Regions from separate parts of the Homo sapiens genome. Here region 2 is linked to region 1. The links come from fine-mapping of genetic effects on gene expression. Tissue or cell type: nucleus accumbens. Region 1 holds a variant in brackets; the other region holds the start of a gene. All regions are shown on one strand. Distances are from middle to middle.

Evidence for each region. PIP is the estimated chance that this variant, and not a neighbour inherited with it, causes the effect.
Region 2: RIOK2 starts here. The variant in region 1 is fine-mapped to the expression of RIOK2 in nucleus accumbens (GTEx, PIP 0.94).

Annotation. Positions count from the first base shown.
Region 1 is chr5:98,090,753-98,098,557 of GRCh38, forward strand. LINC01846 (long intergenic non-protein coding RNA 1846) reads right to left here. Exons shown (of 5, transcript NR_146477.1): 4 at 2,648-2,819. Among named protein-coding and RNA genes, the nearest start is that of LINC01846, 67 kb to the right of the region's middle. The variant T/A (reference allele first, on the strand shown) is at 3,080.
Region 2 is chr5:97,179,584-97,187,388 of GRCh38, forward strand. RIOK2 (RIO kinase 2) reads right to left here and starts at 3,664. Exons shown (of 10, transcript NM_018343.3): 1 at 3,543-3,664. The coding sequence starts at 3,608.

The DNA of each region.
Region 1 (7,805 bases):
GTGATTGATGCATGGAGCAAAATGCAGGGCACTCTACCTTGAAAATGGTACTGTAATGCTATAGATGTAGAGTTAGTTAACAATTGTAACCTAAACAGATATATATCCTTAACACCAATAATTTCACTTCTACACATAAGCCATTTGAGAAAGGAGATTCTGTCTCCATGTCTCCCAAAATGCCTACCACAGTGGTAAAAAAGATAAATATGTAATAACTGGTTATCTGTTAAAATTGAGTAAAATTTTTGAGGAGGCACAGACAGGAACCTACTTCTTTCTTGGGTATTGCAATTTTCTCTTCCCACCATTTTCTATTACTGTAATCATAGTCATCTTTATTACTTGCTTAGAATATGTGACTGTTATGTTATCATTGCAGAGACCTTTTCCTTATTACCAATCTTCTTTTAAAGCATTACATGGAGGAACATGAACAGTCTGAGCATTCAAAGTTCAAGATTTCAAGACAATCAGTTCTGTTTGCCTGATCTACAGGATGAAGGTAACAATAAGAGAAAGTGATCATAATAGTCAATATTTAATACATATTTAATATATATATTTTTAGATTTAACAACTGGTTAAATCTATTAACCATATATCATCTAACCATTTCTATACCTTCCTATCACTCTTCTTTTCCTATTCTCTCTTAATTCCAATTTTCCTACAACACACACACTCATATACACATACGCACACATGCACCCACTATCCATAAGACCATCACGTCTGGGGATTTTGCACATACAGAGCCTAATAAAATTCAGCAACAAAGATCATTCAAATTCATAACTCAAAAATTATCAGGTACAGAAATACATGAACTGAGGTGAAGAAAAGCCAAAATACTGGGAGAAGTAGAATATCTTTCACAAAAGACCTTCTAGGAAGATCATATGGTACTGTTCTGCAAATCTTTCCTTTTACAACATTGAATGTTTTAATGTGAGCTTTGCAGATTCAGTTTCAAATCTTATCACTAATCCTGCCCTTAAGCAAAGCTGTAAAGAAGGTGAAATTAATTTTATACATTTCCTATTCTGCATTCTGTCATCCTCATCTTCCTTTGAGGGTCTAACAACTTCCTACCACTTTCTGCTTGTGCCCATTACAACCCAGATTTTCATCTTTTGTACCTGGAACAGGCCTGGCCTTCCACAATGCTCTATGTGCTATGAAAGTCAGTTTCTGCTATTATCATTGTGTTCTATTATTTCATGTATTTTCTAATAGCCTTAAAGATTACTTTGAATAGGCCTGGAATCTCTAACACAATTAAATACTATAGCAGGCATATAGTATTACCAAGGAAAGTAAAGCAAGATATAGAACAAATTGAATGATGAAAACTGAGACAAACTGGAGACAGGGACCATGTCCAAAATGGACATCCATTATTCAACTGTAGCCTCATGTTATCATGTGGGAATGAAGGCCTAGTGTTGTAAGATTTTAGATTTTTCAAGAGGAGCCAGAAATTTGTACCTTCATACAAAAATTTCAATATTTGTAAAACACCATAAAAGTGAAAAAAATACCTACAAATCAGAATTTAGACTATGTTGACATTAACTTGCTACCTCTGTGATAAGCGATTTTAGAATAAGATTTTATTCTTGCTTAATTCTTCTCTTCAGAGATACCTAGTGTAGTAGGAGAATCTAACACTTAAAAACAGGTCAGGTATGGTGTCTCACACCTATAATCCCAGCACTTTTGGAGGACAAGGTGGGTGGATTGCTTGAGCCTAGGAGTTTGAGAGCAGCCTGGGCAACAGAATGAGACCCTGTCTCTACAAAAAATACAGAAATTAGTCAGCTGTAGTGGCCTACGCCTGTACTCCCAGCCATTTAGGATGCTGAGGTGGGAGAACACTTGAGCCCAGGAGGTCAAGTCTGCAGTGAGCCATGATCATGCTACTGCACTCCAGGCTGGGCAAGAGAGCAAGATCCTGTCTCATATAATAATAATAATAGTAATAATAATAACAATTTTGTGATGGGTGATAAATATCATAGGGGCAAAATGTCATGGGAGCACAGAGATGGGAGAGGGGACTTTCATAAGCCTAGAATGTTCTCAAGGAGTATGTCTCAGAGAATATGAATCTCAAATGAAAGTAGGCCTTTACCAGAGAGAGAGAAAATAAAGAGTATTCCAGAGAGTTGTGTGTGGGAAGATGCAGACATAAGAAACAGCAGCATTTACTTGGGGAAAAAATAGTTTAGGTTCTGTTCCCAGATAAGTGGAATTATATCAGATACAGTTTTTAAGGAGAGTCTATTTGGGGCAGGAGGGCCTCTTGAGTTCTTATTAATAGTTTTAAAATGTGAACACACCTTACTGCACATTAAGCACATGTACCCCAGAACTTAAAGTATAATAAAAAAAAATTTTAAAAAAAGAAAAAAAATGTGAACACACCTCTATTTCTCTCTCCAGGTAATTTTAACATGACCTTGCTACTCCCTTGGATGAAAGGATCATCACGAAGTTTTACAACAAACTTTATGGTTATGGAAGTTCTATATTTACATTTGGAAGATGACAAAGTTGCCAGTAGCAGATATTTTAATTAAAAATATTTTCCTTACTGTTCCAATATCTCTAATGTTTTTAAAAGTAGATTTATCTTACTTACAGGTTCATATGAGATAATTGAAAACATGGTGATCTCAGATACAGCAGCACACATGTGAGGAAACGTAGTAGTCAGTCACATTGGAATACCTTCAAAATCTTCAGTAAAATATGGGTGACGTTGACGAATAGTTCATTCTCCCTATGGAGCTGTCCACAGAGGCTAAAAATAGCTATAAATAGAAGAATCCAGATAAAATCATGTTGTATCATGTGTCATATCAATAGTAATATATACAAATGAAAAATATTGTGAAAATAGTAGAGGTAGAGGCCAGATATGTTAATAAAGGGGTTTAGAGATAAAAGCATGGATAAATAAATATGGCATAGGTATTTTGAGCCAGGCTTTTCAATGATCATAACATATTCTATATTTATATAGTCACATATTTTTGCATATATACAACCTATTCACATTCAAAGAAGTTGT[T/A]GCAAGAGTGTACAAAAATGTCACTAAGAAAAACAAGATTTATCAGGTAATTGCAGTGTTCGCCATTACTTTTAATTACTTCTAATGGCAAGCACTGCAATCCCTTTTGCACCAACCTAATATGTGGCCTCAGGTAATATGCCTGTAATTAGCTTGTTGGTTTTATTTGAAAACAACTATTGTGTAGCAATTGGAAAGTCATTAGCAGGACTCTTTTGCCACATTCATTTTATGCAGGATAACCTTGAGTCCACTCTGTTATATACCTATTTGCAAGAAAAGTCAGTTTAGTTCATCTGTTTCTTTTACCCTGTTCCCCCACCATGTTCTTATTTTATGAATGTATTTTGAGTGTGTTTAATTAACCTGTAGATTTCTATTTTGTGTGGATTTTTTTCATGGCATTTTCAGCTGATACGTTGATTAAATTTATTCATATTCTTAACCAAATCCAAGCATGCTGATCAATATTTTCTGAACAGAATTCAGTGTGAAACACCAGATAAGAGGAGCAAATGCACACTCATTGATGTTTCTCTGCAGTGAAAATTATTTTAAGATGTGGAATGATTTGGGTATGTGGATGTGTGTCTCTTGAGATATGATGGTATAATCAATATGTCCCACTGAAGACAAAGTCCTAAGGCTAAATGGTTTCAGCTGGGCTGTGAAGGAAAGCAAGTGAGAGTATCATTATTTTGAGGAAAATATATGTGATTTTATCTAGATAATGACAGTTTGCACTGTAGCAACATTCCTAGATGAAATCTCTGTACACCAGAGGTTTCATCTAAAACTTCATCTTTACTTATATACTTAGGTGAGGGTGAGGCAAGGGTTAGGTGGCCCACTAGAAAGAAACTTCTGTGAGATTCTTCATTATGCATCTATTATTCTAGGATTGTCTCACTTGTTGAGTTCCATAGTTTTTATTTATTCATAAATGTCAGGAACAGGAACAACAAAGCCAGATTCAAAGAGCCTAACAAGGAAGAAGATAAAACAGCAAAAGTTGAAAATGAAATGTAGATGATGACACATAAAATTAAGGCATCACTGATTCATTTTAAAAATAATTTTTAAAAAGTCTTTCTTTTGTGAAAATCCAAAGAAAAAGCTCCCGGATAGAGTAGGGGGAAGAAAATGGCATTTTCTTGGTATCCTTCATCTCAGCCAAGAAAAAAATCTTATGTTAAAAATGAGTGGTTGCATTAAAAACTTTTTTTTTCTGAGTCTTTAATATCATCAGAATAAATTATCCTTCTGTATCAAATTCAAATGAAATTTATTTGGAGCATTTAATGTAGGTGATATGGCTTGGCTCTGTGTCCCTATGCAAATCTCATGTTGAATTGTAACTCCCAGTTTTGGGGAGGAACCCAGAGGTAGGAGGTGATTAGATCATGGGGGTGGATTTCCCCCATGCTGTTCTCATGATAGTGAGTTCTCACAAGATCTGATGGTTTAAAAATATGTGGTACTTTCTCTTTCTCTCTCTCTCTCTCTCACTACGATGTGAAGAAGGTGCTTGTTTCCCCTTTGCCTTCCACCATGATTCTAAGTTTCCCGAGGTCTCGCAGTCATGCTTCCTGTTAAGCCTGTGGAATTGTGAGTCAATTAAACTTCTCTTCTTCATAAACAGTCTTAGGTAATTCTTTATAGCAATCTGAGAATGAACTAATACAGTAGGACTATCACTTTAAAATACATAAGAGACAGAGAATTATGTAGTTTGAACTAATTTTTGCAGATGTGAGGTGTTCTTTCCTCTTTTAATTACTAGACAAAACATTTGAATGACTCCTAAATGTATTCAGATGGATGAAATCACTTTTCCACCAACCCATCCCCAAGGCCATCATGAACTACCAGTTAAGAAAATCAAATTCTGTGGATTTCTATTCTTTTAGCTTTTTAATTCTATAATTTATACTCTAGTCCAGTATTTGCAGCTTTTTGGGTTGTGTATATTTTGGGGGCAATTTTACTTACGGATAAGGAAATGGAGGCATGAGAACTTTATCAATTATTCTAATTTTAAAGTGCAAGTTGCATTGTAAACAGATCTCAAAGTACTGTGTGAAGTAGATTGGAGTCACAAGTAGTACTATTAAAATTGTGAATAGCCTGATATTGCAGCTGCAGTTGAAGGTTGAACAAGTAATTGTGAATGTGATATAAAATGAGACTGATCAGCTAATAACCAGAGTCATTGTTTTAAGTTCAATGTCAAAGTCACTTCAGACATGTAGCACAATCTTTTGAACAGACTTGAGTGTGTAATAAGTGGAATAAATGTTTACCTAATAATTTACCTCCGCAATGTAAGTTATTCTAAGGTATGAAATGTTCCTTGAGCATTTACATGTTCTCCGAGGTTGTGATGGAATAATTTATTGATTCTGTTGAAGATCAATTGCTAAAGCTGCATAATTTCAGCTAGAAATGAAGGAAAGGAAGAAGCAATTGCATCATGCTTAGAAAGGCAAATGTGAGTTACATTGAGTAATAATGGCTTACACATTCCAATGAAACCTCTGTGGCCCAGCATCTCCTAAAGTAAATAAATGCCTTGAAGAAAGTAAGATATAAACCTAAATGGCCTGCTAAGCAAGCTCTGATCTAAGGCCTTTCATTTTGTATATCTATTATCCCAGGCATGTATCTTACTAACAGGACTGTAAGTATTGATTTATGCATAAGGTGTCAGACATAGGAGCTCACATCTTTGGTCTGAATATGGTTTTTAATAGTGTATCTATCATGGCAGCTTTTTAAATTTAAGTTCCTTCAGGATATAGAAAACCTTTGAAGAAAAAAAAAGTGACACGTGGAGAAATTGTTTTCTTCTCATTTCCAAGGATTGACATTTCTTTCTTTCTTTCTTTCCTTCCTTCCTTCCATCTTCCTTCCTTTCTTTCTTTTTGCTTTTTTTTTTTTTTGGATGCAGATTCTCACTCTGTCACCCAGGCTGGAGTGCAGTGGTATGATCATAGCTCTCCACAGCCTTGACCTCCTGGGTTCAAGGAATCATTCCCACCTCAACCTCCAGAGTAGCTGGGACCACAGGCACATGCTACCATGCCCAGATTGCCATTTTTTAATGCAATATTTATAAAAAGTGTTTTCCAAGTCTATAATCTATGTGATATAAATGGCATTTATTCACTTTATAATCCACAAATATCATTTTTTCTCATTTGAGAAAATCGATAATTATGAACATTGTGGCCAAATAATTGGCACCATGCTATTTACATTTGCTGTCTCTAAGTTTTATTACCTATTTTTATTTATTGATCCTGATTATTTTATTTAATGATTCTTCTATACTTAATGAGATGCCTTCTAGTTCTAATATTCTAGATCTGGATAAACAAATATTAATCATATTCACATCTTTTATAATTTTATAAACTTTGATTCTTCCAACCCTACATTCACCCTTACCTCTAAGTTTTTGTCTCTTTAAATCACATATCTTAAAAAGCCCATTCATCTTTGTATGGTTGTTCTTTTCTGGATCAGTTTCTATACTGTTATTTCTTTCTTAAGGTATGGCATACAGAACTGCATTCAGTACATTAATTTCAATAAATTATATTTTACTCAAGGATAAGAATAAACTTACTAGCTAATTTTCCTTTTAACTACATTCTCAATAATAAGCCTTATTGTTCTGTTGGCCTCATGTTTTTCAGAAAATATTCTTAGGAATGATTCTACAAGATGAATGCATTTTCCTCGCAGTATAGAAAGTATGTATGTGGGTATTGTGTGTGTGTGTAATTTTTATTTTTCAAATGCATTATTATACTAGTTCATTCAGATACTTAGCTTCTACTCATATGCCAATTTATACGTAAGACTCAGTTGTAGCCTATACTCCTCCACCAGACATTTCACTTTCTTTAAATATTTAGTGCTATTTGAAAGTCATGAAGTTTCCCTGCTGACTTTCTTTCATAGTGAAGTTGTTCAGGTAGGTCTTGGCAGGCCACCAAGTAGGTTAAATCTTATGTATTAGTCAGGGTTCTCCAGAGAAACAAAACCAATTGAATATATAGAAAGAAAGAGTGATTTATGGTAAGGAATTGGCTCACATGATTATAGATGTTGGCAAACCCAAAATCTGCAGAGCCAATGTCCCAGTTGGTGACTGAAATTGGAAAGCTGCTGTAGAACCAGGAAGAGCTGATGTTCCAGTTTGAGGACCATCAGGCAGGAGAATTCTCTCACTCAAGAAATTGTCAGCCTTTTCTTCTATGTAGGCCTTCAACTGATTGGATGAGGCCCACCCACACTATGGAGGGCAATCTGCTTTACTCTAATGACTTAAATGTTAATCTCATTTAAAAATACTCTCACAGAACCACCCAGAATAATGTTTGTCCAACTATCTGGGCACCTGTGGCCACTGTCACATCATGGTATCTGTTTCTCATTTTTGAAAGGAGCCTATCTCTCCCTAGCCTTTGTTTTTCTGTCTATGAGTCATTCCCTCTTTAAAGAATTTGTTCTTCCCACTTCATACTGATCAACTGCTTTTAATACCCTTAATTACATAATTTTGTATAATTTAAATTCTGAATAAATTGTATTAACTGTTTCTCATATAAATAATCTGTCAAATAATTCTAAAGTTAATAGAAACAATTTCCCTTGAAAGAATATCATATTGCCTTTCCACTAAATTTCTATGCATATTTAAGTGTAAAATAATCTT
Region 2 (7,805 bases), 910 kb before region 1:
TGGATAAAGAAAATGTGGCACATATACACCATGGAATACTATGCAGCCATAAAAAAGGATGAGTTCATGCCTTTTGCAGGGACATGGGTGAAGCTGGAAACCATCATTCTCAGAAAACTAACACAAGAGCAGAAAACCAAACACCACATTTTCTCACTCATAAGTGGGAGTTGAACAGTAAGAATACGTGGACACAGAAAGGGGAACATCACACACTGGGGCCTGTCGGGGGGTGGGGGGCTAGGGGAGGGATAGCATTAGGAGAAATACCTAATGTAGATGGGATGGGTTGATGGGTACAGCAAACCACTATAGCATGTGTATACCTATGTAACAAACCTGCACGTTCTGCACATGTACCCCAGAACTTAAAAGTATTTTATATATATATATAATATATATATATAAAATATATATATATTATATATATATAATATATATATAATATATATATTATATATATATTTTTAAATTTATTCCTCAGAGGTAAAAAGCACATATATATATATCTCTATCCTACATGCTCTTCTGCATGTGTATATGTATATATATATATATGTATATATATATATATATATGTGCTTTTTACCTCTGAGAAATTTTTATCTCATGATGGAAATTTTAAAAAATGGTATACATCTAAGTTTATTAGAAGTTAAGAAGTGATAAGTGCTTAAAAAGGTAGCTCAGGGCAGAATAAGAATACTTCTAGCTGAGGGATCAGTTCCAAGGAAGATGCAAAACTAGAGACTGACTTTTAAAAGATGTGGGCATACAGAGAAAACAGACAAGGGGATATTAGTGAAAGAAAAAGATTTGAAAATGGCACATATGCAAGAAAGTACTGACCACAGAGAATAGCTGAGTACAGTAGCAGCTCAGATGGGATAGCATATAGAATTCATGCAAACGCGGCTGGAAGATACTTCTAGGATAGAGAAGGCATTAAAATGTAGACCAAATACTTTTATATTTTATCCTGATGAGAGCAGGAAGCTCTTGAAGATGTTTAGGCGTGGGAGACACACGAACAGGGTTATTTTAAGGACATTAATGTACCAGGAATATGCAAATTGGCTTAGAGATGGCAAAATCTGAGGGGGTACTCCGGAGAACTAAGACAGAAGTCCAGCTCAGAGGAAAGAGCCACCAGAACAGGGTAAGTGGTAGTGGTACTGGAAGGAAGGAATAAAAATCTTTAGGAAGTATTATGGGAGAGCTTGGCAATTAGATGTGGAAGGGTAAAGGGAACGGAAAGCCACAATTGGAAGTGATGAGGAAAAGCAAGTTTTAAGATTTTATTATTTTTTTTTTTTATAGAGCTTGGGAAAAGAGAAAGGGGGTAGAAAAAAATTGAATTTGGTTTGAGCACTGAGAGTCAAATAAAAATGTTTAAAGGAAAACTGGAGGCCAGGTGCAGTGGCTCACACCTGTAATCCCAGCACTTTGGGAGGCCAAGGTGGGTGGATCACGAGGTCAAGAGATCGAGACCATTCTGGCCAACATGGTGAAACCCCATCTCTACTAAAAATACAAAAATTAGCTGGGCGTGGTGGTGTGCGCCTATAGTCCCAGCTACTTGGGAGGCTGAGGCAGGAGAATCGCTTGAACCCAGAAGGTGAAGGTTGCAGTGAGCTGAGATTGTGCCACTGCACTCCAGCCTGGCAACAGAATAAGACTCCGTCTCAAAAAAAAAAAAAAAAGAAAGAGAGAAAATTAAATAGGAAAGGGGCCTATATTTAGGAATGAAGTTATAATTAGAAGGAAAAATTGTCAATTATTTTATAGAAGTGAGAGTTGAAGATGTGAAGTGGATGCTATCACTGAGCAGGAGATAATGGAAGAAAAGGAATGTTTGGGAGCAGAATTCTGGGGCAAGTTCATATTGAAAGCTAAGGGCAGCTAGTCAAACAATGATTATTGATATAGGAGGAGCCAAAGAAGTAAAAGGGAAGAGAGGCCCAAGAAAGGGTACCAACACTGGTGAGATTCAACTGAGACCGGAATGTCATATTTAATGACTAAGTCATTTCTTGGTGAACTTTACAAATAATTTAAATATTGCAGCGCCAATGTTTTGGAAGATAAATCTGGCATCATTTTGATGTCTCACCAAAACCTTAACTTTTAAATTTAACTTATTTTCCATGCTTTGTCTCTGCCTCCCCCGTCCTCTAACACTCTTACTTTTGACCCCTACTTCTGTCAGAGACACTAAGGAATGAGTGTGCTGAGAAAGCAGGAAAGGAAGGTATCTTTCCGAAGTGATAGTAGGTTTTCATAGAGAAAGTCCAGCTGATTAGAAGAATCTACATGAGAGGCAAAGTAAACATTGTCTTCCAAATTTCACACTGATTTTGCATTTGATAGTTTAATACTTAAGCGCTATTTAAGATTAATTTTAAAAATCCAAAACTTGAAGCCTTAACATAATGCAAGAACCAGTGTGACTCACATCGCATATCCTATTACATAATTACACAATATAGGTAGTCCTTATCATGGGGTTCACTCCTTACCAAAAGATAACGGCTCCTAAATAAATGTACAAATGTCTTGATCTATATATTAATTTCTGTGCCATAAGACTGAGGCCATAAAATCAGATTTTGTTACTCCCCTGATTAAAAACATTTAGTGGTTACCCCCACATTCTTTACCAAACCTCCAAGGCTCTGTAGTACATAATTTCTCACCTTTTCCGCTACATCTCCAACCATTAGTGTGCATCTCACTTTGCTCCAGCCACATTACATTGGCCTTTCCTCTCTTCAAAGACTTTTCTGTCTCAAGGCCTTTGCACTTACTACTGCTGTTTCCTCTGCCTCCAACTCTTTCCAAGGACTTCACTGGGCTGTCTCTTTCTCACACAGCTCCTATTATTCCCCCATTCATTCTTTCATTTAGTGAATATTTATTGATTGTCTACCAAAGGCCAATAACTTGTGCCCCTCCTCTCCACCAGATACATATACTTTCTATGCCATTATCCTTTATCATTTTCATAGCATTTATCCATTATCCTATTTTTCGTTTACTTGATGATCTGTGTCTCTCTCTCCACTTGTCTGTTTGAACAAGTGAACCTCCTAATGTTGCTACTAAAAAACCGACAAATATGTGTTGACTGAATGAATCAGAAAGACTGCTATGCGACTGAGTCTGTTAGTAGGGAAGTCAATATTATCAAATCTCGGGGGGGGGGGGGGGCTTAAACCTTTCACAGCTGGTCGGAAGCTCAGGATCAGAGAAGTTTCCAGGCCACAGAGATGCAAGCGTTTCTCTTCAGCGCAAAGCGAATAGCAGCAGAAAAGAAAACAATTATTAGAAGACGGGACCTTTGCTCTATCTGGGGGAAGGTAAGCTCCCAAACAAAACCTTTTTAAAAATCCGACTTTCTGAATGCTCTCTTCTCCATTCCCAGCTTCTGCCACGTCCCGGGTCCCAGAGTGTGCCTGCTCAGATCCCAGAAAACTTGCAGGAACAGGAAGAGGTCACACAGTGTTAAGGGGAAGGGAGAACAGGAACGGCGGGTTTCTTACCGCGGTCAAGACCCTGAAGTCATCTCGGCTCATGTAACGCAACTTGGCCACATTCACTTTCCCCATGGCGGCCCCAGTCCGAACCCAGATGCCTCTCCGACGACAGCCGCAAAGCGTAAGGCAGGTCGTTATTCCAGCCTCTAAGCGCTTTACAGCGCCAGATGGCTCGCGCACGCGCTGCGTCTTAGTATAGGTCCTTGTTAATAGTTAGAAGTGCTGTTCTCATTGATATAGGAAAATAAAACTACTTGTATGTCTTATGAAACACATAGTATGTAACAAGTGAACGTTTTATTTTTGTGTAATTTTTGCGTTGTGACTGAGTTGGCGGAGTGTAGATATTCTCTACAATGTGCCTTTTTTTTTCCATATCTGTCAGGACTTGCTGCCTCAATGACACGTTCCGCCTCAGAGAGCAAAGTGGTTACTTAATGGGAGGAGCAAATTTTTCCCGCAAACAACTTCTACTCTAGGCAAAGTGACTTCCAACAAGACAGGGGTAAAAGAACCTGAGCTAGAGTCCAGACAACCAAATCTGTTAAAGGTAAAGTGGACTGTAATCACACAAGCACGCCCTCTACTCCTAATTGCGCCTGCTCCGGCAGCTCCGGAGGGCGTGGTTAATGGAACTCATGCGCTTGCTCAGTACTTCTCTTAGGTTGGTCTAGGAGGCTTCGAAGTGCGCCTGCGCTGGTTGGGGTGGGAGTTTAAGGTGACACGTGGAGAGCGCGGCGGACGTCCTTACCTCCAGAGGAAGTGGGGATTTTGATAGTTCGGGCTGACCTACGCGGGTAGGACTTCGAGGGCCCAGGAGCGATTTAAGGATTTTAGAATAGTTACCCATACTGGCTCTGCAACTCCTCGATATTCAAGCCTTTGTCTGCTTTTTACTTGAATGCAGCATGTCTTTGATTAACCATCTTCAACCAATGAACATCTCCATTTAAACGGAATTTTTCTTTCTGTACTTACATAAGAAGGCATAGAAATGAATTTTTTTTTTATTTTTGAGACAGAGCCCGGCTCTGTCACCCAGACTGAAGTACAGGGGCGCGATCTTGGCTCACTGCAACCTCTGCCCTCTAGGTTCAAGGGATTCTTCTCCCTCAGCCTCCTAAGTAGCTGGGATTATAGGCTCACACCACCACGCCCTGCTAATATTTTTATTTTTAGTAGAGATGGGGTTTCGCCCTGTTGACCAGACTGGTTTCAAACTCCTGGCCTCAGGTGATCCGCCCCCCTCAGTCTCCCAAAGTGCTGGGATTACAGGCATAAGCCACCGCGCCTGGGCGAAAAGTTTTTAAAAAAACCAAGTGACTAACTTTATTTGTACAAATTTATGGGGTACGTGAGAAATTTTGTTACAAGTATTTAGGGTGTCTGTCATCCAAATACAATATATTTTTGTGTAACTATAGTTACCCTACTCTACTATCAAGCAGTGAATATATTCCTTCTATCTGACTCCATGTTTGTAACCTTTAACCTACTCTCTTCATCCTGTTCCCACTCCCCTCATCTTTCCCAGTCTGTTATCTGTCTTTCCACTCTCTACCTTAATGTGATCAAATTTTTTAGCTTCCACATATAAGTAAGAGCGTGTGATATTTGTCTTTTTGTTCCTGGCTTATTTCCCTTAAGATAATGACCTCCAGCTCCATCCACGTTACTGCAAATGGCAAGATTTCATTTTTTATGTCTGAATAGTACTCCATTGTGTATATATACCACATTTTCTTTATCCATTCATCTGTTGATGGACACTTAGGTTGATTCCATAGCTTTGCTATTGTGAATAGTGCTGCGATAAACATGCAAGTGTAGGTATCCCTTTGATATACTGATTTCTTTCCTCTGGGTAGATACCCAATAGTGGGATTGCTGGATTGAATAATTCTATTTTTAATTTTTTGAGAAATCTCCATATACTTTTCCACAGTGGCTGTACTAATTTACATTCTCATCAACAGTGTATAAGAGTTCTCTTTTCTCCGCATCTTCACCAACATCCATTATTTTTTGTCTTTTTAACAGTAGCCATTTGGACTGGGGTAAGATAATATCTCATTATGGCTTTGATTTTCATTTCTTATATACTTAGTGATGTTGAGCAATTTTTCATGTACCTGTTGGCCATTTGTATGCAAATAACTAACTTCTAGAGCAAGAATGGAATGGGAAACAAGCCATTTATGTTTCTACTCCGAATCCAGCACTTTAGCAAATGTTCCTAATCTATTATGGTGTAATTCTTACATTATTTCTCAACATTGCCTCAGACAGCCACCATTAACTGAGTGGAATTGACTAGAATTGCTATTGGTGTTCTGAAGTATGCCTTACGGTTAATCACATTAAGTCCAAATCTCTTATATTTGGAATATTACTTTTAAAATAAAATCATTTTAATAATCAGAACTTTGAAGAGTAAAAGTAAGTGATTGAAGTGCAGTTTGGTATTCTGTTCTACTCCCTCATACCATGCTTAGTGATGAGTAAAACAAAACATGTACAGTATTATTCGTTAATGCATTCACTATTCATCAAACATATATGCCATACTTTTTTACTAGGTCCTGGGGAATCAATCTCAACCCTCATACCTGTGTTGGAGGGTGAAGAGTAGAAAAATAGAGAGTAGTGTGACACAGATGTGCAAAAGGTGTATCATGTTGGTGTTTCCTCCTCCCTTACCTCCCCTGCCCTGACCCTGTCCTTACAAGTTGCAGAGAACCTTAACTGTCTACAGATCAAAGTGCACGTTTAGACTGGCATTCAGGATTGTCAACAATCTGTATCACCATCTTCAAGCAGTTTGTACTCTTGTCTAATTGAACTACTTTTGTTTTCCCTGTATAACTCCCTTAAATTTCTTTTTTACTAAGTTTTCCCTTCACCTGTAATACTTTTCCCTCCACCTGTAATATTACCTCTTCCCTACTGTTTTTCTTCTTTTTCAATCACAATATATGTAAATCTTATCTACCATTAAAATTCTATTCACCACATAAGGTTTTTCTTTATTATTCCTATTTATCTCTATATTAATTTTCTCTTGCTGCTGTTAACATATTACCGCAAACTTTGACGACTTAAAACAATAGAACTTTATTCTCTTACAGTTCAGGACGCTGGAAATAAGAGATTATTTTTACTGGGTCAAAATCAACGTGTTGACAGGACCATGTTCCCCCAAGAGGGGCTCTAGTGGAGAATTTGTTCCTTGCCTTTTGCAGCTCCTACTGGGATTTGGTGACTGCTGGCATTCTTTTGGCTTGTGGCACATCACTCCAGTCTCTGTCTCCATGCTTACGTTATTGCCTTCTCTACTCGTGAGTGTGTGTGTTTCCTTCTGTCTCTGTCTTATACAAATACATGTAATTGCACTTAGGATCCACTCAGACCCTTAATAACATCTGTAAAATATTTTTTTCCATATAGGATAAATTCTTAGGTTCTAGAAATTAGTATGTGGATATTTTTGGATGGGTCATCATTCAACCTCTCACACTCTCAAAGGGAAGTAAGTGCTCCTCCCTCTAATCTTCTGTAGCCTGTTGTCTTTAATGATTCTGGCCACTTTTTAACCTCTCCTGCTTGCCCATAGGTTAGGTTAATTACAGAAAAAGTTGAATGTGGAGACTGAATTTAAAGCATAGATTCAAGAAAAAGAAATTTTGTATATTTACATTTAAGATATTATACTAGCTAAAACTCAGAAAAAATTATGATAGATTTTACTGCATATGGGTGGTAGCGCCATACATTTGCATATAAGGGATATCAGTGGTGGAAAAAGACACAGAATGGAAGATAGGGATGTGTGGAGTTTATGGCAAGTTTCAATGGGAGACTCACAACACAAACTTGTTGAATTCAGAAGCATGTTCAGAATACACAGCAGAGATTTATATACCTTTTGAAAAATAGCTCCTGGCGTGCTGCAGAGCCCTGGGAGAGATGTGTTGCTTGGCGCTGAGATATCACACAGGTGACATCGGGGTCACAGTTGTTCAGTAATGATCTATCCTAAGATGAAAGTGGTACGTGCAGGAGTGAACACAAGCAGGACCAGAGGGTGCAAGCTGCATGAGCAGGTGGACTGGACTCTTTCATGTCATCCACTACCATTGCCCAAGTGCCTTTCCCTCAACTTATATCTCCATGGGTGATACCTTTGATCAGTTGGTGAAGCAAAAAAAGCCCACATTAGATTCACGGATGGGTCAGTTTGATTTTGTAGTTGAACTACAGCTCTATTTG